Homo sapiens: one gene and its partners. The protein of the gene in region 7 interacts with the protein of the main gene of each other region in a pairwise test. Each region holds a gene or a part of one and is shown on either strand. Other genes may lie near its edges.

Region 1 (3,455 bases), on a different chromosome or scaffold from region 7:
AAGGCAGGCTTGATTCCCAATTCCCCACCCAAAGGGCTCTTGCCTAAATCCCCCTTGTTGCCAGCCCCACACCGCCAGATCCTTCTGTCGTAGCCACTCAGCTACATCTGAACACGTGCCACTCCCTCCTTCCAGGGACCTCCTCTCCCTGGTGCCTATGACCCCACACTCCCATGATATTTTATTTCTACCCAAATCAGAGAAGGGTTTAACTAGTTTGGCAAAAGACAGGAAAAACCCAAGAGGCTCCTGTTCACACTGAGAGATAGGAGGAAACTGATACCTATCCCAATCATGGTGGTCTGTGGCCACACTTGGCTCCTTTAATGGGGCTAAAGGAGCTTTAACTCCGTTAAAGGAGGCAAGTGTTGCCACAAACCACCACCATCACGTGACCGAGGACCTTCTCCCACTTTTTCATTTACTGAAAACCCCTGAGCACCCAGCTGGGACAGTACTCGCCGACGCCCTGGACCACAAGGGCTTTCTAGAGGATAAAGCCTGAACCAGCCAAGCACCCCTGCACTCCACTGGTCCTCACCACACTGGCCGTGTCTGTGGTTTTCTTGGGGATGCTGATCAGGTCGCACTTCTTGTTTGCAGTGGGCTTGCTATCCAGAATGTTCTTCTTGACCACCTTGAGATCCCTGTTTTTGCCTGGAATGTACCCGTGCTTCAAGGAGATGAGGATTGGGTCTGCATTCTTGCCTTCGAACCACTCTTCTGCCTCCAGCGCGGCCTCTGGCCCCGCTGTGTCAGGATACAGGTCATCTTGGAAAAGGTCAGACTACAAGAGACATTTGGCACCCGTGGGTAAGGAAGAAGAAAGGCCTGGGATTTTTGAATTTTATTTTTACATTTGTTTAAAATATGGATTGTCTAGAAAACTCAGCACTCACCTTCCTGGGAACAGTCATAATAATAGGTTCACACTTTCTCTCATGAAGTTTGAAGAATCTTCAGAGGGGAAATAAAGGCAAAGTTGCATTAAGTGAAATATGAGGCTGACTAACAGGATGAATAATTAGTTTTCTACAATGCTGTCTGAAATGTCAAGTGCTTCTTTACCCATCCCCACATCTGATCCACCCCGGGAATAGGCAGAATTTAGTGTTCCCGGTTGACAGATGAGAGAACGGAAGCTGAGAGTCACTATGCTAGGAACTGGCAGACTGGAGACAAGAACCATGAGTAGAGGTCTACGTATGATGATGACAAATGCCAATTATCTGGGGGACAGACCAACTGTGGTGGAAATAATAGCAACACTGAAACTGACTCACTTATGAAAAAATTACCATGTCAACCTACAGGAGAGAACACACATCTGTTAGATTGTATCTACAACGCGGGTACAAGGTCTTCTGCCAGCTTGAGGTGGTTGAACATATAAGTATAAATATGACTTTTAGAAAGCAAAAGAAAACAATCCTAGGATTATGATTTTCTCATCCTAGCAAACCACATCGTACATGACACTCAAGAAAAATGTGAAACTATCCAAAATGTGGAAAGAGAATGTAAAGCCACTTGCACTGTAATACTGGAAGAAGGGAGCAAAGAGCTCTGTAATGGGGAAGAAAGGTATAACATTTTTATTTGTATCCTACAAGAGAACTAAACAGACCAGAAATGACTTCTCTTATGATGACCCTGATAAGGTCAAGCCAATTTTCTTTTTCAGTCAAGACGGGAAACAACAAAAAAAGTCTCTAAAGCTCCTGGCAAGAGAGGTAGCCTTAGTGAGCATCCTGGCCAGATCACCAGATCAAACGGCTGGTGTGCAAGGGGGGAGTTGAATGTGGGCGTCAATGCTGCTGGGGAAATGTTTTCTGAATTCCAAGAGTTTAAGTCAGAGAAGACACAGCCACATCAAATATGCAAAACCATTTCTCCTGGAAACCTGCAGCCTTTGGCATCTGAAACTGGGCAGGAGTCCATTGAAGACAACCTGGCAGATACACTGCTCTAACGCATCAGGGGAACAAAAGCTGAGTAGAGCTCAGGGTGGTAAAGGTTTATAAAATCATCATCCTCTTTAAAAGGAAGGTTGTGTCAAATGTGCCTCTTTACTATTTCAACCAAAAACTAAAAGAGTCCCAGATAAACCAAAAACCTTTTTTTTTTTTTTTTTTTTTTTTTTGGGACTGGGTCTTGCTCCATCGCCCAGGCTGGAGTGCAGTGGCACAAGCTCATTGAGGTCTTGACCTCCTGGGCTCAAGCCAAATCCTCAGCCTCTGGAATAACTGGGACCACAGGTACGTACTACCACACCTGGCTAATTTTTTTAATGTTTTGTAGAGACAGGGTCTCACTAGATTGTCCATACTGCTCTTGAACTCCCAGGCTCAAGTGATCCTCCCACCTTGGCCTCCCAAAGTGTTGGGATTACAGGGTGAACCACCACTCCTGGCCCAAAAACATTTTTAAAGACTGATTTAATGAAAATTCTGTGGTTAGTATAGCCAATAAAAAGACTGACTTGGCTTTGACTTCCAGCTCTACTACCAAAACCCACGAGAGTGTGACAACCTCACCAAGCCTTAAGTTCTTCATCCATAAAATGGGGATAAAAGTTACACCTACCACATATGATTGTTATGAAAAGAAAGAGGTAGCAAGTAGCATATTTAGCACAGTCCTGGCATACAATAAATGCTCAAGAAACACTTCATAAATCGGAGACATTCTGAACAACTGTGTTTATAGTCTGTCGAACTTTTAGATGACAACAAATGTGTTTCAAAATATTGGATGTAATCATAAATTTGAATTCAGTCTATTTTGAACCATATTTTGATTAGTTTGGTTTAAACCACAATTTTCAATTATCTTTAACAGCTTTCCTTCATTATTCCAACTAAAAAAAAAAAATCACATAGAGAGTTTTGGTTTGTTTGTTTTTGTTTGTTTGAGACGGAGTCTCGCTGTGTTGCCCAGGCTGGAGTGCAGTGGCACCATCTCGGCTCACTCCGCCTCCTGGGTTCAAGTGATTCTCCTGACTCTGCCTCCCAATTAGCTGGGATTACAGGCACCCACGACCACACATAGCAAATTTTTTATTTTTAGTAGAGATTAATATAAAAAAGGGGCTTATAAAAATTCTCTTCCTTTTATTTGGAAGACGTAAGTATCAATTCTTTAATTGTGAGACCAGAACAGCAAGCGTTTTAAAAGTCCACATAAACACAGTGTTACACAAATGTTTGGTACGACCTTATATGTGATGATGTAGTGCTAATTATTCTGTTGTTTGAAATGGCCAGTGGTCACTGAGTCTCAGAGGATATATTTGTTGACTAGCATGAGAAAAAAGCCTGTCCCTTAGGAAGCCTGCTAGCATTTAGAATATGAATTTTCTAAAAATCAGAAGTAGTACAGAGAGGTAGAAATTATATCATAGCTGAACTTCCTAAATCAAGCTAACCTACCGCCCCATTATAGGACCTTTGGTT
Region 2 (3,500 bases), on a different chromosome or scaffold from region 7:
TCCTGTGTTAGTCACCCTTAAACTTATCTCACCCCTCTTAAAGAATTTAAGTTCAACACGGGCAAGAAATATCTATGCTATCTTCATACTATCTACATAGAAGGCTTGCACATAGTGTACATTAATATACTGTTTTAATTTACTGTCACGATAATTTACAAACCAATGTGGAAAACTGATAAAATTATATGTGAAGTTTCAATATGAGTACTTAAGACTGTCAATTATGCATTCATTAAATAAACTTTATTAATTAACTAATCTACAAATAATACATGTGAGTCCTAAACAGCCTAACCACCATTTCAATTCTTAGACAAGCTGGTAGTGTTTTCTTAACATAAATTAGCTCTCTAGATAACACATTTCAAAAATATTATTAATAATGCAGTGTTAGCAGTCATTAACATCAATTTCAAAGAGTTCAACGCATCACAATGAATTTCAAAGTAAAAATAAACTTAACAGAAATCCTTTCAAAGATGCAGAATATTGGTACTATGTAAACAAAAACTAAATGTTACATAATTTAAGTCAGAAAAAGACTTACTCTGCAGCTAGCCAAGCAATGAACTTTCATTTTGGTTTAAAGTGCATGACCTATCACTTCACCTAAGTCACAAAAATTCATCTCTCAGGCAGTTTTTCTTAACAGCTTAAGATATTGGCCAGGTGCGGCGGCTCACACCTGCAAAGCCAGCACTTTAGGAGGCCATGGTGGGCTGATCACGTGAGGTCAGGAGTTTGAGACCAGTCTGGCCAACACGGTGAAACCCCACCTCTAATAAAAACACAAAAATTAGCCGGGTGTGGTGGCAGGCACCTGTAATCCCAGCTACGCAAGAGGCTGAGGCATAAGAATCACTTGAACCTGGAAGACCGAGGTTGCAGTGAGCCGAGATCACTCTACTGCACTCCAGCCTGGGGGATAGTGTGAGACTGTCTCAAATTAAAAAAAAAAACAAAAAGTATCTAGAGGTGGCAGTCAAATGCTCTCTAGTTATTTCAATTTGTAATTGATTCGACAGAAAGAACTATTTACTGAAAAAGAAAACCAGAACTTTAAAAGTGCCTGTTTATGTATTGCTGCAGTTCTAATTTGTGACCAAATATGCAAATATGTTCTATAATCTTAGTATATCTTTATTACCAGGCACAAATCAAAACTTTAGGAAATACCAAGTATATAAGACTTTGTCCACGTAAAAAATTAAGACTGCAAGTGTTCAGAAGACAATCTTCCAAACTAGAAAACTCTTTAAAACACAAAGCATGACATTATTTCCATGGCTACTTTCTTTTTTTGTTTGTTTTTGTTTTTTGAGACAGGCTCTCATGACTTTTCTAACCAAAACACTAGCCATCTTTAGCACTGGAAATGAATTTACAGGTTGAGCATCCCTAATCTGAAAATCCAAAATCTAAAACTTTTTGGGTACCAACATGACACTCAAAGGAAATGCTCATTGGAGCATTTTGGAATTCAGATTTTCAGATTAGGGATGCTCAACTGGTATGTATTCTGCAAATATTCTGAAACCCAAAAAAATCCCAAATCCAAAACACATCTGGTTCCAAGCATTTTGGATAAAGGATACTCAACCTGTATGCCTTTAAGTGCCAGCAAACAAAAAACACACATAAATGAGAATGTTTTTAATCAACATCCAAATATTACAATTTAAAAAAGCCACCTCTAGAACTGACCTAATAATTTCCCCTACCAAACACGCCAGCAAACCAAATTTAAGAAAATATGTTTCAATGGATCTTAAACTACTTCTATTATCAAAAAAATTTAAAACACCAACTGTTTTAATGCTAATATGTCCTACGGAAAAAAGCACATACATTTTTAAGTGATATACAATCTATAACTTCTAAGTATTTTGTATAATCTTTCTACTAATAGAATTACCAAAAAAATTTCCAATAAGAGTATTTAAGAAAAACTTAAAAATAAGATACTTTGTTCAAAACTGTGTATTTTAGCAATAGTTCCCTGACGCAGATAAGATTCCCCAGTCCCCTAGCATTATTACTATAACTATACTTGGTAGTACTACTATATTTAAACTTACTACATTTATGGTATATATTCGTATATATTCTACTTTAACTCAAATCCTTACCCTACTTAAAAAAAAAAAAACCCAAAAGGTTTTCAAAAATGTACTAAAAAAGTCACAAGTTAATTTCTGTTAAAATATTTTGCTTAGTTTTCGATAACTCCACTGAAATTTTAAAAATAAGAATCTTGAATTATTACATTACCAGAAGATTAAGGGTCAGCATTCAAGAGCACTGTTCAAGATCACCCTATATCACAAGAACTCTAATTACGCAGGCTCTAGCTGTTTACAACCTTAAAGACATTACCAAAAAATAATACATTGTATTAACTACCTTATTTTTTTAATCCAAAACCCCAGGCATTGTATATCAAATGGCCATCCTACAAACAAAAAATTCTTTCAATGACTCTAATATAACTGAATCTGACAAAAACATTCGGGAGACGATGAGAAATCAGTGGTTTGAATAAACTGCACACCTGGAAAAGGAATACACATATAGATATGTACATACGTATACATACGCATATGCATATATATACATATATGTGTATACGCATATACATACGTATGTATATACATGTATATATGTATACACGTATACGTGTGTATATACGTATGCGTATACGTGTATATACGTATTCATATACGTGCGTATATACGTATACGTGTGTATATGCGTATATGTATATGTGTGTATACGTATATGTATACGTGTGTATATATGTATATGTACACGTGTGTATATATGTATACGTACATATGTTAAGGGACAAGTAAGAGACATATTTAATGCTTTCAACTTTCTAAAGCTTTTAGGTCAAGAGTTTTTTTTAACATACAAATGTGAATTTTAAAAACTTGAAAGAAAATCCAATAATATACATAGGAATAAGAATTTTTGAAAACAAGTAGTAATAGCTAAATTTCTGCCAGAAAGGAAAACGTTATACAAAGTGCAGACTAAATTGGGGCCGGGGGGTTGGGGGTGGGGGGGCATGGCAGGACAAAAATCAAAGCTAAAAAGGGAATTCTGGGAGTTATTCAATTCCATTATCTGCCCTCAGGTAAGTAGCCTAAACCTGCCCAGTAAAGGAAAGCCAACTCTTAAGACTTTCAGGGAATAAGAATTCTGAAACCAACATAGCTCAACATTCCACAAAAAATAAAAATAAAAAACAAAAAAATACTGCTTCGAGGACTGTTAAAAGAAGGATGAAACTAAATAATTCAAGACTTCCTACAGCAGGACTCCAGCTCATTCACTTCATTCAGAACCCAATTCAAACAGAGGGTGCGAAGTTATATAATGTCAGGCTTTACATTACACACCCCACTGGTATGTTCAGGCTCACAAAGATGCAACCAAGAACTATATGCGGTTGCAAGCACATATTACAGAAGGTTTTATTTTAATGTTAAGGC
Region 3 (2,261 bases), on a different chromosome or scaffold from region 7:
CCCACCCCCCCACCACATGCCTGTGACCCACTGAGGCTTGCATACTCTGCATTGCAATTATGTGTTATTCTTGATTAAATTCATTTATTCTGGAGAGCCTGAGTTTCTCTTTAGGTTGACACCACTCACTCTTGTCAGTCCCTGGAGTACCCCAAGCATCCTCACGTGGTTAGCAGGGAAACCTTGGCATCTCAAGGATGCAGGTGCAGGAGAGCGAGTCTCCAGGCTGTCAGAGCTGAGCATGCAGAAGCCTGCCCTGGAGAGCGCCCCGAGGTTCCTGACCGCAGGTTGTCTCAGGCCCTCCTGAGACCCTGGTGAAGAGTGGGATGGGACCGCGGGGGGATTCCTTGGCACCCCAAGTAGTCTTGGCCTTCATGTGTGAACTCCTGTCCCTAAGGGGGCCCCCAGTGAGCTCCAGCCCTGGGACACAGCTGTGAACACCTGATCCTTGTTCCCAACACCCGTGCACTGCCCAAAAACTGCACTTGCCAGAGTAGCAGTCAATTACGGCACCTTGTGTTTATTGGAAATATTCCACCTACAGAACATTAAGATGCCAGCAACCGGCCCGGCGCGGTGGCTCACACCTATAATCCCAGCACTTTGGGAGGCCGAGGTGGGTGGATCACGAGGTCAGGAGATCGAGACCATCCTGGCTAACACGGTCAAACCCCATCTCTACTAAAAATACAAAGAATTAGCCAGGCGTGGTAGTGGGTGCCTGTAGTCCCAGCTACTAGGGAGGCTGAGGCTGGCCTGGAGGTTGCAGTGAGCCAAGGTCACGCCACTTCACTCCAGCCTGGGCAACAAGAGTGAAACTCCGTCTAAAACAAACAAAAAAAAAGACTTCACCCAACTAACTGTGCTTGTGTAGAAAGAGGTTGCATCCCTGTTCCAGTCATGGCCATGAGGAACAGCTATGAGAAGGGCCCTAAGGCACAGCATGGTTTGCAGTAAGAAGGGCAGAGCCAGGGAGAGAGAAGTAAACATCATCTTCTGGGCTTTGGTTTCAAAAATCACAAGGTGTGGGCCTGAGCCTGCTGCCTGCCCAGGTCTGGGCGCCTCCACTCAGCCACTGTCCTCCCAGTGCCTCTAAATCTGGAAGGCTGCATCTGAACCTGCCCTTCCAGACAACACCCCTCCCCTGGGAAACCAATGGGGATGAGTAGTGGCCCTCCACTGGGGACTGTGGGTTTCGAGGTGGGGGCAGAGGATGAGTTGGCAGCAGTGGCATATCATAGCTCTCTTCATGTCAGCAGGGAGAGGGAGGTGCCACTGCCTCCCCTGAGATGAGAAAGCAGGCGAGAATCACCAGGGGAAGAACCCTGGGGCAGCTGGCTTGTCCCAGCCATGCCTGAGTGCACCAAATATGGAGGCTGCGTCCTCACTCGGAGAGCCAGGCAGCCTGAGCACCAAGATCCGTCAGAAGCAGCAGGCAGCTGGGGTGAGGGGTGGTGCCTCTGACTCATGAAATCCCGGATTAGTCAGCAACCATCACAGAGGCCGCCGGCATTGATCCCACTGGTTCTTGGGGAAGCACAGAAAACTCAGCAGCCTAAACCGACCATGGAAGAGGCTGAGAGGCAGAGGCCTTGGGGATAGATGGGGAGAAGGCAGGAGTACCGGCCGCAGGCTCAGGTGTCCAGGCCAAGCTTCTCAGAGCCACCTGGATCATGGACATCAGGCTCTTTCTGTGGCCTTGCTGGGCATCCAGGGTGTGTGGGCTGGGATGCCCCAGCCTTGCCCCCATTACTGGTTCGTCTGCTAAGGAAGAGGGGGCAGCCCTCGAGTGGGTGGAATTGTCCCCCTCATTCTGGTTCTGCATCTGTAGGCTGCAGAAGCACATCCTGTGTAGCTTATGCAGCTTCTAGTGCTCGGTGGGGTGTGGTGGATCCACAAGGCGGGCTCCCAAAGGGACATGCCCTCCTGTTCTCCCCAGATGACACCACACCTCCCTTGGGCCCCAACCCGAAGCCTCCTCTCAGCCCCATTCTCCCAGGTCCCAAGTCCCTCTGCCTCTTGACTAGACCCCACAGCCAGGAATGGAGCCACAGAGCCCCCAGCAGGCTGTCGCCACTTGTGTCCAGAGGCGACAGGAGAGGCCCTGCCCTCGTGGAGTCTACCAGCATGTTTCATTCTGTGTTCTGCAGGCTGGAAGCATGGGGCAGGCTGCTTTCCCACCCAGAGCTCAGGCTGGGCTGTAGCCCCCAGCTCCAGGACGCCGGGGCTGGCAGGTCTGGGGGGAGTCGGGACTTCCAGGA
Region 4 (3,500 bases), on a different chromosome or scaffold from region 7:
CTCTTAAAAATGGAAATACAGGAATTTTAAAGTAAAAAGAAAAGGTCTGTTCTAAAAGTTCTTTCACAAATATATATATTTAAATATTAAAATAGGCTACCTAGGATTTTTATAAAATGGCTTTTGAAAAGATAGTAGAGGCACAAAGAAGCCATATACTATCCTCCAAGTTGGACATAAGGTGCCACAAGGCTGCCCTACAAAGAGGCAGGCAATCTCTACCTGATGCAACGGGAGGCACCAGTAAACAACAGAAACATTAAATACATTATTGGGAACTTGGACCAAAACCAAATTTTACTCTATTAGGGACCGTTGCTTTTTTAAAAAATACCTTGAGATATAAGCATTAGAAGTCATCACTTTGTACAAGGAAGAAAATGAATACAGTTTATGATCTTACTCCTTCCAAATACCTGATGTCACTCATTTCAGGTACCTGAAAGATGAAAAGCAGTGCAACTTTCAACAATTTAATGGACTACTCTCATTATGAGAGACTTTACACAGCATCTGTCAACTTGAAAATTAAATTGGTAACTGAAATAAAAAATCGCCTAGAGAAAACACACATAAGCTAATCCTAGAAAAGGCTCTCCTTAGAAAGCAGGTGTTTCTAAGAACTGCAGGAAAGGCTTCCCATCTTGAACACAGCTTCCACTAATACCAAGGGAAACGTGCATTAAGAGGAGAGATGACAGGGCTCCCTTAAAGCAGGAAGATTTATCCTTCCTCAGCAGGTGATGTACTTTGGTAACCTCAACATTCATTTATGGGATGATTTTTCATCTGTTTTATTGAATAATGAAATCTAAATGTGGCTAGATTGGCATTTGGGAAAACAAGGGCCTTTTAATAAAAGTCCTGACACTGGAGCTCCTCCCACCACTAGGCACCAATTTTATCAGTATATCGCCACAACCGTGCCTGGGACTTTAAGCTTCATCAGCAACATCAGTCAATTTAAACGAGAAAGGAACTAATAAAAGAATTTGACTTTATAAACCAGGTACTTTGAACAAAAACTAAAAATTTTAAAGTTAAAAAAAGTTTTGTTTTTAATCCGCAGTCCTTACTCTTAAGTTCTCTGTAAACTATTATGCACACAGAAACCTTGGTATTAGCTGAAGCCGGCCTGGGTCTTGCACAGTGGGGGTTTACTTAAGTAAAAGTAGCACAAACATTTCAAAGACAATCTCAATTTTTCAGATACTGCCAAACCGAGATACCAATAACATCTGAAATCTTTGCAGAGACTATTTATAAAAACATGGAAGTGTTTTTATTTTCCCATCATAAAAATATAATCACGATAGAGTGGAAATGTCTAACTGTATTAGTTTAGTAAAAAGTTAAAAAAAAGTATGACCACTGATGGTACTGGTACTACAAGTCTTCATCCCATAACTGACACAGGCTTAACCCCCCATAAATATTACAACATCTCAACTTATCTATCGTCTAAAATGAAACATCCAGAGAGCGACTGTTCTTAGTTGAGCCTGGGATTGAATCAATTCCACTTTATTGTTTAATCTGAACCATTATTGCTTTTGGCTAATTCATCTTGCTGAGGACTTTCCAAATAAAAATACTCTGTCACCATACTGTCAAGCAAAAACGACAATGAAAGATAAAAATGGGTATAGGCAAAATAAGGAACAACTTAATTTAAATGTTCATAGTTTGAGTTTAAAGCCTGTGGGAGTATGCTTAGTTTTAATATTCCTCATAGACATGTTTGCCACAACAGAGCTTCCTTGTTACCCCAATTTTGTTTCACTGCTTCAGAAAAGAAAATTTAGCTTTTATACATTCATCTCTCAATAACTTTCAAAATCTAAATATATTACAAATAAAGCATCTTACGTCAATAACTTACTTACAGTGAAAACTACATTTATTTATTACCTTCTGGCAACTTTGGGTCTGTTTCTTCTAACTGTAAACTTCACACTAGTTTTTTTTTCCCAGTTAGTATTAATATTTAGAAAATTTTTAATTCTCATTCACTTGGATGTGTATTTCAGAATTACAGCTTCATACTTTGCAGATGACTGAAACAAAGTAACATATGAAAGTTTCTAATTCTTTTGTTCATTCCACAAATCTCAAACTTCAGCTAAAATATTAAAATTTTAGGATTATTCATTCAAGTAATAAGTCTCTGTTACAGAATTGCCACATTATACAGTAATGTATTTTTCAAGGACTATTAAAGCTAAAAGGGACTAAAACATAATCTGAGAATCTTCAAGAATAAAAGCTGATAAAATAGATAACTGGCCTCTATTTAGATTAAGAGAAAAAATTAGAAATAAAAGACTGAAAGATTTAATACAGCTTCCAAAGGCTCCCAAGAGAACCATTTATAAACTGGGAGAGTCTCCTGAACCAGCCTATTAGTTAGAAGGTAACTGAGTTACCAATAATTATGGACATCAGATGTATTGACTAGTCTATTTCATTTGGCAAAGTATTTTAACAAGATGAAAGTTTTTTTTTTTTTTTTTTTTTGCTAGTTATTAAGAACAAAGGGCATGTGTCGTAACAGGGGATCTAATTACTGTAAGCCAGAATGATTGCTGAAATGTCAAAATGTAAGATTGAATGAGGCTATTTAAACATTTTAGTATATTTTGTCTTACTGAAATTGATAAAAAAAAAAAACTGGCAATGTAACTAAATGCGTAACTAATTACTTGAAATAAAAAGATTACTTGAAATTCAAATTAAGAAAAATCCATTTAAATATATTTGTGGGTGATAATCTCCATCTGCATCCATTTATATAAAACTTAAAATGCCAAAAAATAAAGACCAATATTAATCTCTTTATTTCTGAATGAGATGAAATCACTGACATGTTTGATGCTTCCACTATTAGAATATACCCTTTAAACACGAAAAGAACAACTGCAGGAGCTTTAACATCCATTATCATGGGTGAACATCTTTGTTTACTTCTAAAGTACATCACACCTATTTGGTAGTTAAAAAACTGAAAATAAAAGCTTGTACAAAATGCTTGGTTTTAAAAAGGCAATTTATTCTGCATTCTGAAATTTAAGCCCTTTAGATACCACAAAGTTACCCTCCTGGCCTTAAGAAAGATAGCTACGTTTAAGCACTCTAAACTGGAATATTTATGTTTAGTTACACTGGTAATTTCTAATGAATGGGATAATATAACTGGCTATCTCTTTGCAATATTTTCAATATGTCCTGGTAAAAATTATGCATCTAGGCATCCCTAAGATGAATTTGAAATAAACCTAAATACTACTATATATACAATTATCCCTTGCAAATCTGTTTCCTAAAACAGATCCATAAACAGATCCAATATCCTTAAAGTACATATATATCAAGAAAAATGTACCCTCACTGAAATAGAAAAAGGCCTTTATTTGTATCATTTTATGTTAAATACTGGTTAGTTACTGGTATTGATAAGATCTGGGCAGCAGACAACTAACCAGATATGCATTTTCACAGTA
Region 5 (3,500 bases), on a different chromosome or scaffold from region 7:
GGGAAAAAAATGTTCTCTTGGGAAATGTCATAGTCAAAGGTATATAACAAAGTAAAGTAGCAATGAAAACCTAGTGCATTTTTAAAATAGAGATGACGAGAGGATAAGATGAAATTAGAATACAATAAAAAATAAACAGGGAAGGCAAAAGACATGGTAATTTGGCATCTAATTTACATTAATTGAAATAAATTGCTGAAGCCATTTACTTCATTATCCTGATTTTTACTGCAATGAAAATTCAATACCAGAGGGTTCAGTGGTCTTTAAGTAATGTTTAAAAAGCAAGAAAAAAAACAGAATTTTGGAGGAGGTTTGCTTTTCTTCCTTCCTTCCTTCTTTCGTTCATTCATCCTTAATTTATGAACCATTTACTAAGTGCTTATTCTGTCCCAGGCACGATTCTGGACACTAGGGATGTAATAACATATAGAGCATAGTTTATTTTCTTGAGAAAGTCTTGGCCTACTGATGGAGACTGAGGCCAATATAGCGGTGTAATTCTCTTTAAACCATTAGGAAAAGAGAAGCGAGGGATCAATTAAGTAACTACGCTCTTTTCAGTGCTTTACTTTTTACAAAGTACTTTCACAGTGCCTGCTACATATCAGGTGCTCAATATAGATCTGTTGAATGAATGAAACAGTAAGGGATTAAAAGGATGGTTTCTGAAGGAAGAGGTTCAATTCTGGCTCCACCACATGCTAGCTATATGACCATGGGAAAAATCCATATCTCCCTATGCCTCAATTTTCAGTAAAATGGAGGTAAGTAATAATAGTGGGTACCTCATATGGTTTAGAGGATTAAATATAAACCATTTACTACAGAATAAACATTTAATGTTAGCTATTCAAAATACCAAAATAGGAATGGTAATAAAGTAACATCTACTCTGTCTCATTTAATCCTCACACTCAATCTTCAGAAGGTAGACTGAAGTTCTGCTTCCAGACCTTCAAAGGTCCAAATGTCTAATTTGTATGTTATGTTAAGCAATTACACTGTGAAAAAAATATGAAAACAGTATCCCATATGTACACTTAAAATACTATGATCATAACCTATGAAAGAGACTGAGTAGATAATTTTCCTTTGGTTTAGGGACATAAGATGGGGCTATGCAAAAGAGAAAATGAGCAAGTGAACAAACAGGCCAGTCAAGCAGAGTGAATGTCAAAGTCTAATGCCAATGGCTTTAGCCTCAAATGAAGTCACACCACATCTAACAGGACCAACAGGAATATCAACCATGGTGCCTGTGATAACTATTTTAAATCAGAAGCTGCCATTTTAGGGATAATAACAGCATAGGCCTTTCATTAATCAAAAGTCTATACCCTAAGCATAAAACTAAAACATGTTTACTTTTCCCAAGTATGTTAGGCAACACTTACAAATCAATTTGTTCTGAGGTTTACTTACACAGCACTGAACCACTGTTGAAAATTAAGCTCTTACAAAATCAACTCTGGCAATAACTTTGTACTAAAGGAAAAAAAATTATCTCAGCATTTTTCTTAACTACTAACTAGCCTAGTTAGTATGCAAAGTTAGCAACCTTGAAAAGTACTGTTAGCTTTGATTCTGAGCAGGCCAGAGAAATCTGCCTCAATTAAGTCAAATCGTGGTTTTGAACAAAATAATCTCAAAGGTATCTTCGAGCCCTGAAAAACACAAATCAGACAGCTGCAATTTTCTTCAGCTCTCTCCTAAGGTAAACATTTTTTGAAGAAACAAAAGAGAGGGTAGGAGGCAGGAAGGGTGCTCCAAAGTCCTCTTACAGCTTCATAGTAAGTCAATTGAATATAAGTCAACACATTTTAATGATCTAGTATATAAAGCATACCATGATGAATAAGAGGGTACTTGCTCATAAGAAGCTTAGCTTTTCACCTAGTATGGCAGGAGTCTCCCCAGGCCAAATTCTGCCCACTCCTCAGCCTGTTTCTGTAACATTTTATTGGAATACAGCCACACTCTTTCATTTATGTATTGTCATGGCCACCTTCACAACATACACAACAGTAGAGCTGAGTGATTGCAACAAAGACGATCTGGCTTACAAAACCTAAAATATTTACTATCTGGCCCTTTACAGAAAAAGTCTGCTGGCCACTGAAACTGAAAAAGAGAATAAAGACATCTTTCCACTAACTCTTCAAAGTCAAAGAATGTTAGCACCAGAAATAATTTTAAAGATCATTACAACTTTCCCGTTTTACAAGCAATGGGAGAGTTTCCCATTTTACAAGCATGGAAGATAGTAAAAACCTTCTAAACAAGAGGAAAATGTCAATAACAGATTACATACTATGTGCCAGGCACTATTCTAAGGGCTGCACGTACATTATCTCACTTAATTCCCTCCACAAGCCTGTGAGGCACACACTTCAGTACATTTTGTAGATGAAGAGACTGAGGCACAGAGAGGTTAAGCGATTTACCCAAGTTTGCACAGTTAACACATGGTGATGCTGGAATTCAAATCCACAGTTTGATTTCAGAGTCTGTGATCTTATCTCCCTGCATAGGGCATGCACTAAATGAAGGTACAAACGACGTAGCTATGTATGGGAAAACAAAGGCACAATTACTTTTCACTGAGGGGATCAGTAAAGGCTTCATGGAGGAAGAAGTGCTGGTCCCTTCTATTACCTTTTGACCTAATCTCTCCAGATGCCTGGAAAGGATGACAAATAGCACATAGCCACAAAACTTGAACAGAGTAAATTCACATTGTTACATGATACTGTTAAGTTAGAAATACATTCATTTTGCTAGTTTAGAAAAAAAATTTTTTTTTTTTTTTTGAGACAGAGTCTTGCTCTGTTGCCCAGGCTAGAGTGCAGTGGTCCAGTCTCGGCTCACTGCAACCTCCACCTCCCGGGTTCAGGTGATTCCCCTGCCTCAGCCTCCTGAGTAGCTGGGATTACAGGCATGCACCACCACAACTGGCTAATTTTTGTATTTTTGGTAGAGATGGGGTTTCGCCATGTTGGCCAGGCTGGTCTTCAACTCCTGGCCTCCGCCTGCCTTCGGCCTCCTAAAGTGCTGGGATTACAAGTGTGAGCCCAGCCAATTTTATTTCTTCTAATCGCCACCATTGATATAGTGACAGATACCACAGGTGGCTTGAAGAAGTATAAAACATTATCCCTGTGGTCAATGAGTTTACACTCTAGTCTAGAAGTATTAAATAAAACTACTTGGTACAGAAAAGGTTGATACTAGAGTCTTTTTTTAAAAGAAGTTTTGTACAAATGCTAAAATGTGGAAATGGGAAAATCATTGGTCAATATATATACATATTTTCCAATCATTTCATAGCAAAATCCCCAATGCCTGCTGTAATGGTTGGTTGTTGGGTTCTGACCAACAGAATCTATTCCCCCTCACTTTTGGTAATTGTACTCCAATTTTCCTCTTGATGAACCTGTCATGTTTTTCAGCGGGGGCTCCATCGCTGGTTTCAAGAGTGGAAGATGAAGCTATACTGT
Region 6 (3,500 bases), on a different chromosome or scaffold from region 7:
TCTTTTGTAAAAATGCTTTTTTTTTTTTTTTTTTGGAGCTTTACTATTACTATGGCCACTTGCTCTTCCCCAAAAGACTTTCATAATAACTTGGACAAATGTCTGCTTCAGAAAACAAAACAAATTTAAAACACTGGGTCCCTGATAGGAATGGCATTAAATTATAAATTATGTTGGGGTAAACTGAGGTATTTATATTATTTAGTCTTTATCTGAAGATTTTATCCTTTTTTTCTTATAGATTCTGAACATTTCTTATTAAAGTGATTTCTAACTATTTTATATCTACATTTTTAAAAATTTAGATTTAGTTTAGATTTTTAGATTTAGTTTAAATTTTTAGAGTAAAAATCTCTTCAACGCTTTCTGTTTTTGCTTTATGAAGCATCTTATAATTAGAAGATAATTTTCTTTCTTGTTTGACATCAAATTTCTTTCTTGTTTGGCATCAAAACATAACTATGTGGCCAGAGACACCTGAAGATAAAATCCTTAAAGTAGAAAACAAAAAACAACCAAACTCCATCATCACATGACAGGATACTTAACCCACATCTTTCAGCATTCTGAAATTAAAGGGAATGTTTTAAAAGCCTTCTAGGCTAGATTGGTTCAGTCTTATACGGCCACAAATGTTCTCCTGGAAAGAAAAAAATCATATTCTCCTCAAAAGCATTAGGCAGTACGGCACTGATTAATAGGAGCAATAGACAAGACTGAAAAGTCTCTCTGCTGGTTCTGCTGGCATATCTAAATTCATATTCATTTAGCAGGCATTTTATGCTTAGTAATGCCCTGTCTTGCACAAAGGAATAATTCATTCTGGACTGAAATGTGCTACTACTATGTTACAATGTCTCTGTTAGCAAAACTCACAGGTACAGGACATATCATAAACACTCACCAAAAATCTTGAGAGACTGTTGCTACTGCAACAGCAGAAAATAAGCCCTGGTTTACTGACATCCTCTCTGACATATGATGTTGGATTCAAATATTTCACTGAGATTGTGGTATTACAATTTAATACGGAATCTAAAATCCAATTTTGTAGCCCTGCTAGTGAACTTAATGTATATCTCTGGGATAATAGAGTTTAAATTCATTAACTTTCATTGCAAGATTTATAACAGCCCGAAATATAGTTTTATACCACTTCTTGGGAAGGAAATACAGAAAGAAACAATTTTCTCTTAAGTGTCTGCTCTCCAGCACAGGTTTTGATGCGAACTATCAACCCAGAAAGTATTAGTTGAATTATTAATTATACTTATTTCTTTATAATGAAGAATACATACAGAGAAACTATATCAGCTCTGGAACTGAAAACAACTATGAAATTTCTGATTTAATATGTGAAAGTCATGGATATTTGCATGTTCACTTAAAAAAAGTGAAGTTTCACGAAACAGGATGATTAATAAAACAATAACGTTCACAGAAAAACAGCCGAAATCTATACTAGAATCACAGAATTTACAGCCTCAAAGTACTGAAAATATATTTTTATTTTCAGAGGCCTCTCAGTAATGACACGTACAGAACACAAAGCACCCACTTGCTAATTCCAGGATGATATTTTGTACTTGTTGTGTAAACATGTGGCACATGTGCTGTTTTCTTATCTCAAGCACTAGGAAGCCCCTGCTTAAGAATGCCACCTAAATATTTCACCTTGCAAAGGAATGCAAACACAGTATTTTTAGTTAACTTCATAAAATCTCTAAGATTTCTAGAAAGTGCTTTCACAGGCACATTTTAGAGACATAAGCATCTGAACTAAAACTGAAGTCTGAAAAGACTGATAGAGAACATTAAATCTCTATATAGGAGTGAAAATATTTTACATGAGAAAGACACAGTTCAATTTAGAATTTTTTAGAAAAACTATGCACAAGTTCCAGTTCAGGAAGGAGGCTAATTGGCTGATCACAAATTTGCTGATATATTCAAACATGATATTGCTTAGAGGTCTCTCAGGCTTTTTCTAACATATGGGGCCTTGATCAAAAAACACTCAAGGTACTTTGCAGAAGCTTCCATAATTACAACCTAAGAGAAGATAAGAGAAAGAAAAATACAACTCCCTCAATGTAGCTATCTTGATTTTCTTTTTCCTAAGGTTAACTCTCTTGTGATGCTGGTTGAAAATACAAATCAGATTCTTCAGAGGATTCAAATCTCAGCACGGAGAGAATATCAGATAAAATAAAACAATAAAATCTTGTTTCTAGCAGCATTAATACATTTTTTATAAGACGAGCTACCATTCTTTGTTAGGACTACGGTCTATTCAGGCCGGTATAGACATCAATAGGAGGCCTCCAGGGATCATGGAACAAAGTAACATTATCCTCCACGATGTAGTCAGAGAGGTGGGGCATATTTCAGTTTCTTTTAGCAGTCATCGAATAGGACTCTAAATATCAAAGAATCCCTTGGGGACTTCTTGCACATATGATTTCTTTAGAAAATTATCTAGTTTGTAAAAATGTGCTTCTTTTCATTTGTCCTAAACTTAACTGATTAAAAGTTTTAAAGAGATTACCATTGTTCTAACTTTTTGGAATTGCTGTTCACATCATTCAAATAGCGAGTGGTTCTAAGCATTTTTAGATAGATTCCCTATGGCTAAACATCAGCATTTTACATCAGTATTAAACACCAGTATTTTATTAAGATTTCAAGTGACCATCACTTCATCCCTCTGGGTTTTTGTTGCCCCCTTATAGATTTCATTATTTTTCTTCTGCTATTTGGAGACTATAGTCGAACCGCATCTGGGATTTCAGATATTGTGGAAATATAAAGGTTGAGTGAGACTTTCTAAAGTTTTTTCTATTGATTGTATTTGCTTTGTTTATGGTATCAAGCATACCACTGGCCTTACTGACTGTATCTGTACACTGACCTGCTGTTCTTAAGGGATAGAGGACAAAGGTAAAGATCCATTTTCCTAGGGCAGCATGTATGTGTCTGTGTCTGTGTCTGTGTGTGTGTGTGTGTGTGTGTGTGTGTGTGTGTGCAGAGGTGCTGGGCTGAAAGCTCAGAATTCTTTATTTAACATACATAATTTCAATCCTTTGAGCTTTCATCCAGAGCACTAATGGAGAAGTTAAATAAGAACAGTCTTTGGTAGCTCTGATCCTCAGAAACCCTGTTTTTATCTAATTCTACCCATATAATGAAAGAATCTGAGATCTGGAAGAGAACTCAGAGATCTGCTATCAATAACTTTTCCCTCTAATATTTCTAACATGGAACTTTCAGCCTATTCATGGCATGCCTCAATACAATAGGACAGGTATGTATTTAGACAGTTTGAAAGTCTATCTTTTTAGAAGACTAAAATGTGTATCTCTCACTTCAGTCTATTGAATCTAGTGCTTAATTCTCAATGAATATAGAACAAACTTAGCTCATCAAAAGAACTTTTGACATACTTAACAATAATTGACACAAACCTCTCAAAAACTCAACTTCAGCGCTCTAGGCTAAAC
Region 7 (3,500 bases):
GCCGTGTACCCATCACACTGCATTCGAGGAGCATTGCACACAGCAATCCTCATGTTCTAAGTGCTTCCTACCTCCCTTGTGGGAAATCTGAGAGAGGGGTTTGGGTACAGAACTACTCTCCCAGCTCAGCCAGAAGCCAAACTTCCATTCACCGTCTCCCGCAGATTTACAGTTTTCTCTATCCAAGGAGAAGACACCACTGAAAAACCATGGCAAAACCACGTGGTAACCTTCAGTTTACAGAACTTGAAGCAGAGGCTATTTCAGAAAGAAAGGATAATAAAGACGTTTATTTGCATTTGTCAATCAACTTAACATACAGCTGAGAAAGAAAGACTAAAAACCCTCTAATAAAGATTGTTAACTGACAGAAGCATTTTGTTTTTGTTTATTTTTTGAGACAGGGTCTCGCTCTGCCACCCAGGCTGGAGAGCAGTGGCGCGATCTCCACTCACTGCAACTGCCACTTTCTGGACTCAAGCAATCCTCCTGCCTCAGCCTCTCAAGTAGCTGGAACTAGATACACACAGCACTGCACCCGGCTAACGACAGAAGCATTCTTATGATACGATCTCCTCTCGGCTCACTTCATCTTAGTCCTGGAGGTCTGACTGTCTAGTTTCTTCTTCTTCAGAATTAATGTTTCCTGAAAAGAAAAGAGAAACATGAGTATATCTCATATTTACTTTGTTCTATTTTTAAAGCCTTTATTCACTAACAGATCTTTTGCCGAAAAAAATTATTGTAACTATTAAGCATTCATCAGTCAAAAATTGAATGTTAAATTTTATCTCATATGCACTTCAACAGTTTTTTCTTTTGGTACCCGACATAAAATAAGCAAAATACGTACTCAAAGTAAATGCTAAGACAAGACTATCCATGTAACATCAGTAATTCTCTTATGCCTGCACACCTGTCCAAAACAGCCAGCTTTGTGGCTAAAACATGTAATTGCTTGGCTATTAATTTAAAAGAAAAGCAGGCCGGGCGCAGTGGCTCATGCCTGTAATCCCAGCACTTTGGGAGGCCAAGGCAGGCGGATCACTTGAGGTCAGGAGTTCGAGACCAGCCCGGCCAACATGGTGAAACCCCGTCTCAACTAAAAATACAAAAATTAGCTGGGCATGGTGGTACATGCCTGTCAACCCAGTTACTTGGGAGGCTGAGGCAAGAGAATCGCTTGAACCCCGTGGCAGAGGTTTCAGTGAGCCGAGGTCACGCCATTGCACTTCAGCCTGAGCAACAGAGCAAGATTCCATCTTAAAAAAAAAAAAAAAAAAAGCAGAAATTTGCCACATTCTTATAAGACGCTATATTTAAATGTTTTGTGAAAGGTAGAGCTATTTTTTATTATTAATTAAACTCTATAACTTTCACTGTTGGGTATATTAAAGAAGAAATTAGCAGGGTAAATCTCCAATGTAATGTGGGATTCATGATGAATACATGCTGAACTTGCATTATTTTGATAAATGTTCTGCCGACTAAGCCTATTTTGTATTACTCCCTTTTCACTTAGGGCCCTCCTGACACTGTGGCCTGGGTGACCCTTTGCTGGGGGCTGTTCTGTGCCCTGCAGGGTATTCAGCACCGTCCCCGGCCTCCACCCAGGAAGATGCCAGCAGCACCTCCCTCACCAGCCTCCCAAGTCTCCAGACATTGCCAAATGTCCCCTGGAGCCCCAAAACCACTGAGTTAAGGGGGTGTTCCCTCTGTCCAAGGCTGGTGCATGAACCCACAGTCTCAGACGCCCGCTGGTACTGGGCATCGTCCACTCGGCCCCATCTCTCCCAGTCCGGTTTTCAGGATTCCTCCTGCTCCATCCCCTCCGTTATCTCCCCCACCAAGTTTCTGGGGCCTCCTGCCTTGCCTGGCTCCAGGGCACCCATCCTCATTGCCCCAGAGAAGCTCAGAGAGCAAGCCTGATACAGGCAATCCCCACAGCTCCCAGAGGTCCCGCCTACTGGGCTCAGGATCAAGTTCAAAGGCCATCTGGTTCCAAGGGAAAGGGGCCACCTCCCCACCCCCACACTCTTCTGCTGTCAGACTCTGCTCTCTGCCTGGAATTTCCTTCCTGGTTTCACCCATTCCTTGCCACCTCCCTCCCAGCTAACCCGGAGTTTCCTGGTCCTGCCCCAGGTGAGTCATCACCTCTCCTGGGTACATGGTAACACGTCCCTGTCACTGCAGGGAACTCACTGATTCCTTTATTCCAGCTTCCCATTAGGTGCTAGAGGGCGAGAGCCCAGCCCCTCACTCCCACACTGCCTATCAAACCCAGTGTCTCCCCCTCCAGCTGTGCTCCACAGTGACTAAGGACTGACATCTGTGGGCACAGCTAGATGCTGCTGTAACACTGTGCATACTCTAGCCACTCAGTCCTAACAGAATCCTGTGGACTCCCTACCTACCAGGGCTCACTCTATCCACCCTCCCTGTGCAAGTCAGAGAAGCAGAGACGATGCTCACTTGTAAAGCCAGGTTTCCACCTGACCCCACGTCCCACCTCAGCACTGCGTCACTGGGTGCATTGCTACAGCGCTCAGGGGAATTACCGATCACGAAAGTCTATGCCAGCGCTCAGGGGAATTACCGATCACGAAAGTCTATGTGTGCTTCAAGCATCTAAGAGAAAACTGCTTTATGTGATTTCATTATTTCAGGTATTATTTTCAAAGGAATGGGAAGTATATTCTTAATTTACAACAGAGACAAACTAAGTGGAATGGGACTGCAGACCCCGTGCCTGAGGCCGCCGTGCCCAGGCTGTTCCCAGATGGCCCTTTCCCTCACAAGCACGACACCCTCTTTCAGTCAGATGTGAAAAGTGCGTTAAGGGAAGCGAGTCCTCTCTCCAGACTTTCTGCAAGTGCCCACAAGCACTTGGGGAAAGATTTTTAAAGATTCCAGGAGCCTGAGGCTTCAGTCAGTCAGAACTGAGGTCAAATCCCTGCCCTATGAGCTGGCAGAGGCAGAAGTTTCTAGATTAATCTTACATCCAAACCCATTGAAAAAGAGCTAGTTCCCGACACCACTAGTCTGAAACCATACTCCTGTTAGTCAGCCCTGCTAAAAATCATGCAAATCCCAGCACTTTGGGAGGCCGAGGCGGGCCTCCTGTGTGAGGTCAGGAGTTTGAGACCAGTCTGTCCAACACGGTGAAACCCACCTCTACTAAAAATACAAAAAAATTAGCCGGGCATGGTGGCATGCACCTGTAATCCCAGCTACTTGGGATGCTGAGGCAGGGGAATTGCTTGAACCAGTGAGGTGGAGGTTGCAGTGAGCCAAGATCGCACCACTGTACTCCAGCCTGGGTGACATAGCAAGACTCCATCTCAAAAAAAAAAAAAAAATCATGCAACAGAAGAAAGCCAGGCTCTGCATGTCTGACAGGGCTCTCCAGCCTGGGGTCGGTCCTCCTGTGACAACGCGCATGGGCACCGCTGCACACCCAGGCCTCTCCCACTGCAGCCAGGCTTGCAGGAGGGCCTGCC

What was found.
Region 1: the proteins of RSPH1 (region 7) and CORO1C interact in a two-hybrid assay, tested with the Homo sapiens proteins (one large-scale study listed by BioGRID and IntAct).
Region 2: the proteins of RSPH1 (region 7) and KDM6A interact in a two-hybrid assay, tested with the Homo sapiens proteins (one large-scale study listed by BioGRID and IntAct).
Region 3: the proteins of RSPH1 (region 7) and UAP1L1 interact in a two-hybrid assay, tested with the Homo sapiens proteins (one large-scale study listed by BioGRID and IntAct).
Region 4: the proteins of RSPH1 (region 7) and ZBTB44 interact in a two-hybrid assay, tested with the Homo sapiens proteins (one large-scale study listed by BioGRID and IntAct).
Region 5: the proteins of RSPH1 (region 7) and CMAS interact in a two-hybrid assay, tested with the Homo sapiens proteins (one large-scale study listed by BioGRID and IntAct).
Region 6: the proteins of RSPH1 (region 7) and EDIL3 interact in a two-hybrid assay, tested with the Homo sapiens proteins (one large-scale study listed by BioGRID and IntAct).

The regions. Positions count from the first base shown.
Region 1 is NC_000012.12:108,648,064-108,651,518, forward strand, and holds part of CORO1C (coronin-1C), read right to left. Parts: intron 958-3,455; coding exon 900-957; intron 788-899; coding exon 542-787; intron 1-541. UniProt on the Homo sapiens protein: Plays a role in directed cell migration by regulating the activation and subcellular location of RAC1. Increases the presence of activated RAC1 at the leading edge of migrating cells.
Region 2 is NC_000023.11:44,876,188-44,879,687, reverse strand, and holds part of KDM6A (lysine-specific demethylase 6A), read right to left. Parts: intron 1-3,500. UniProt on the Homo sapiens protein: Histone demethylase that specifically demethylates 'Lys-27' of histone H3, thereby playing a central role in histone code. Demethylates trimethylated and dimethylated but not monomethylated H3 'Lys-27'.
Region 3 is NC_000009.12:137,082,778-137,085,038, reverse strand, and holds the end of UAP1L1 (UDP-N-acetylhexosamine pyrophosphorylase-like protein 1), read right to left. Parts: 3' UTR 501-2,261; downstream 1-500.
Region 4 is NC_000011.10:130,227,918-130,231,417, forward strand, and holds part of ZBTB44 (zinc finger and BTB domain-containing protein 44), read right to left. Parts: 3' UTR 1-3,500. UniProt on the Homo sapiens protein: May be involved in transcriptional regulation.
Region 5 is NC_000012.12:22,049,218-22,052,717, reverse strand, and holds part of CMAS (N-acylneuraminate cytidylyltransferase), read right to left. Parts: intron 1-3,500. UniProt on the Homo sapiens protein: Catalyzes the activation of N-acetylneuraminic acid (NeuNAc) to cytidine 5'-monophosphate N-acetylneuraminic acid (CMP-NeuNAc), a substrate required for the addition of sialic acid.
Region 6 is NC_000005.10:83,944,381-83,947,880, forward strand, and holds part of EDIL3 (EGF-like repeat and discoidin I-like domain-containing protein 3 isoform 1 precursor), read right to left. Parts: intron 1-3,500. UniProt on the Homo sapiens protein: Promotes adhesion of endothelial cells through interaction with the alpha-v/beta-3 integrin receptor. Inhibits formation of vascular-like structures. May be involved in regulation of vascular morphogenesis of remodeling in embryonic development.
Region 7 is NC_000021.9:42,472,225-42,475,724, forward strand, and holds the end of RSPH1 (radial spoke head 1 homolog), read right to left. Parts: intron 647-3,500; coding exon 594-646; 3' UTR 262-593; downstream 1-261.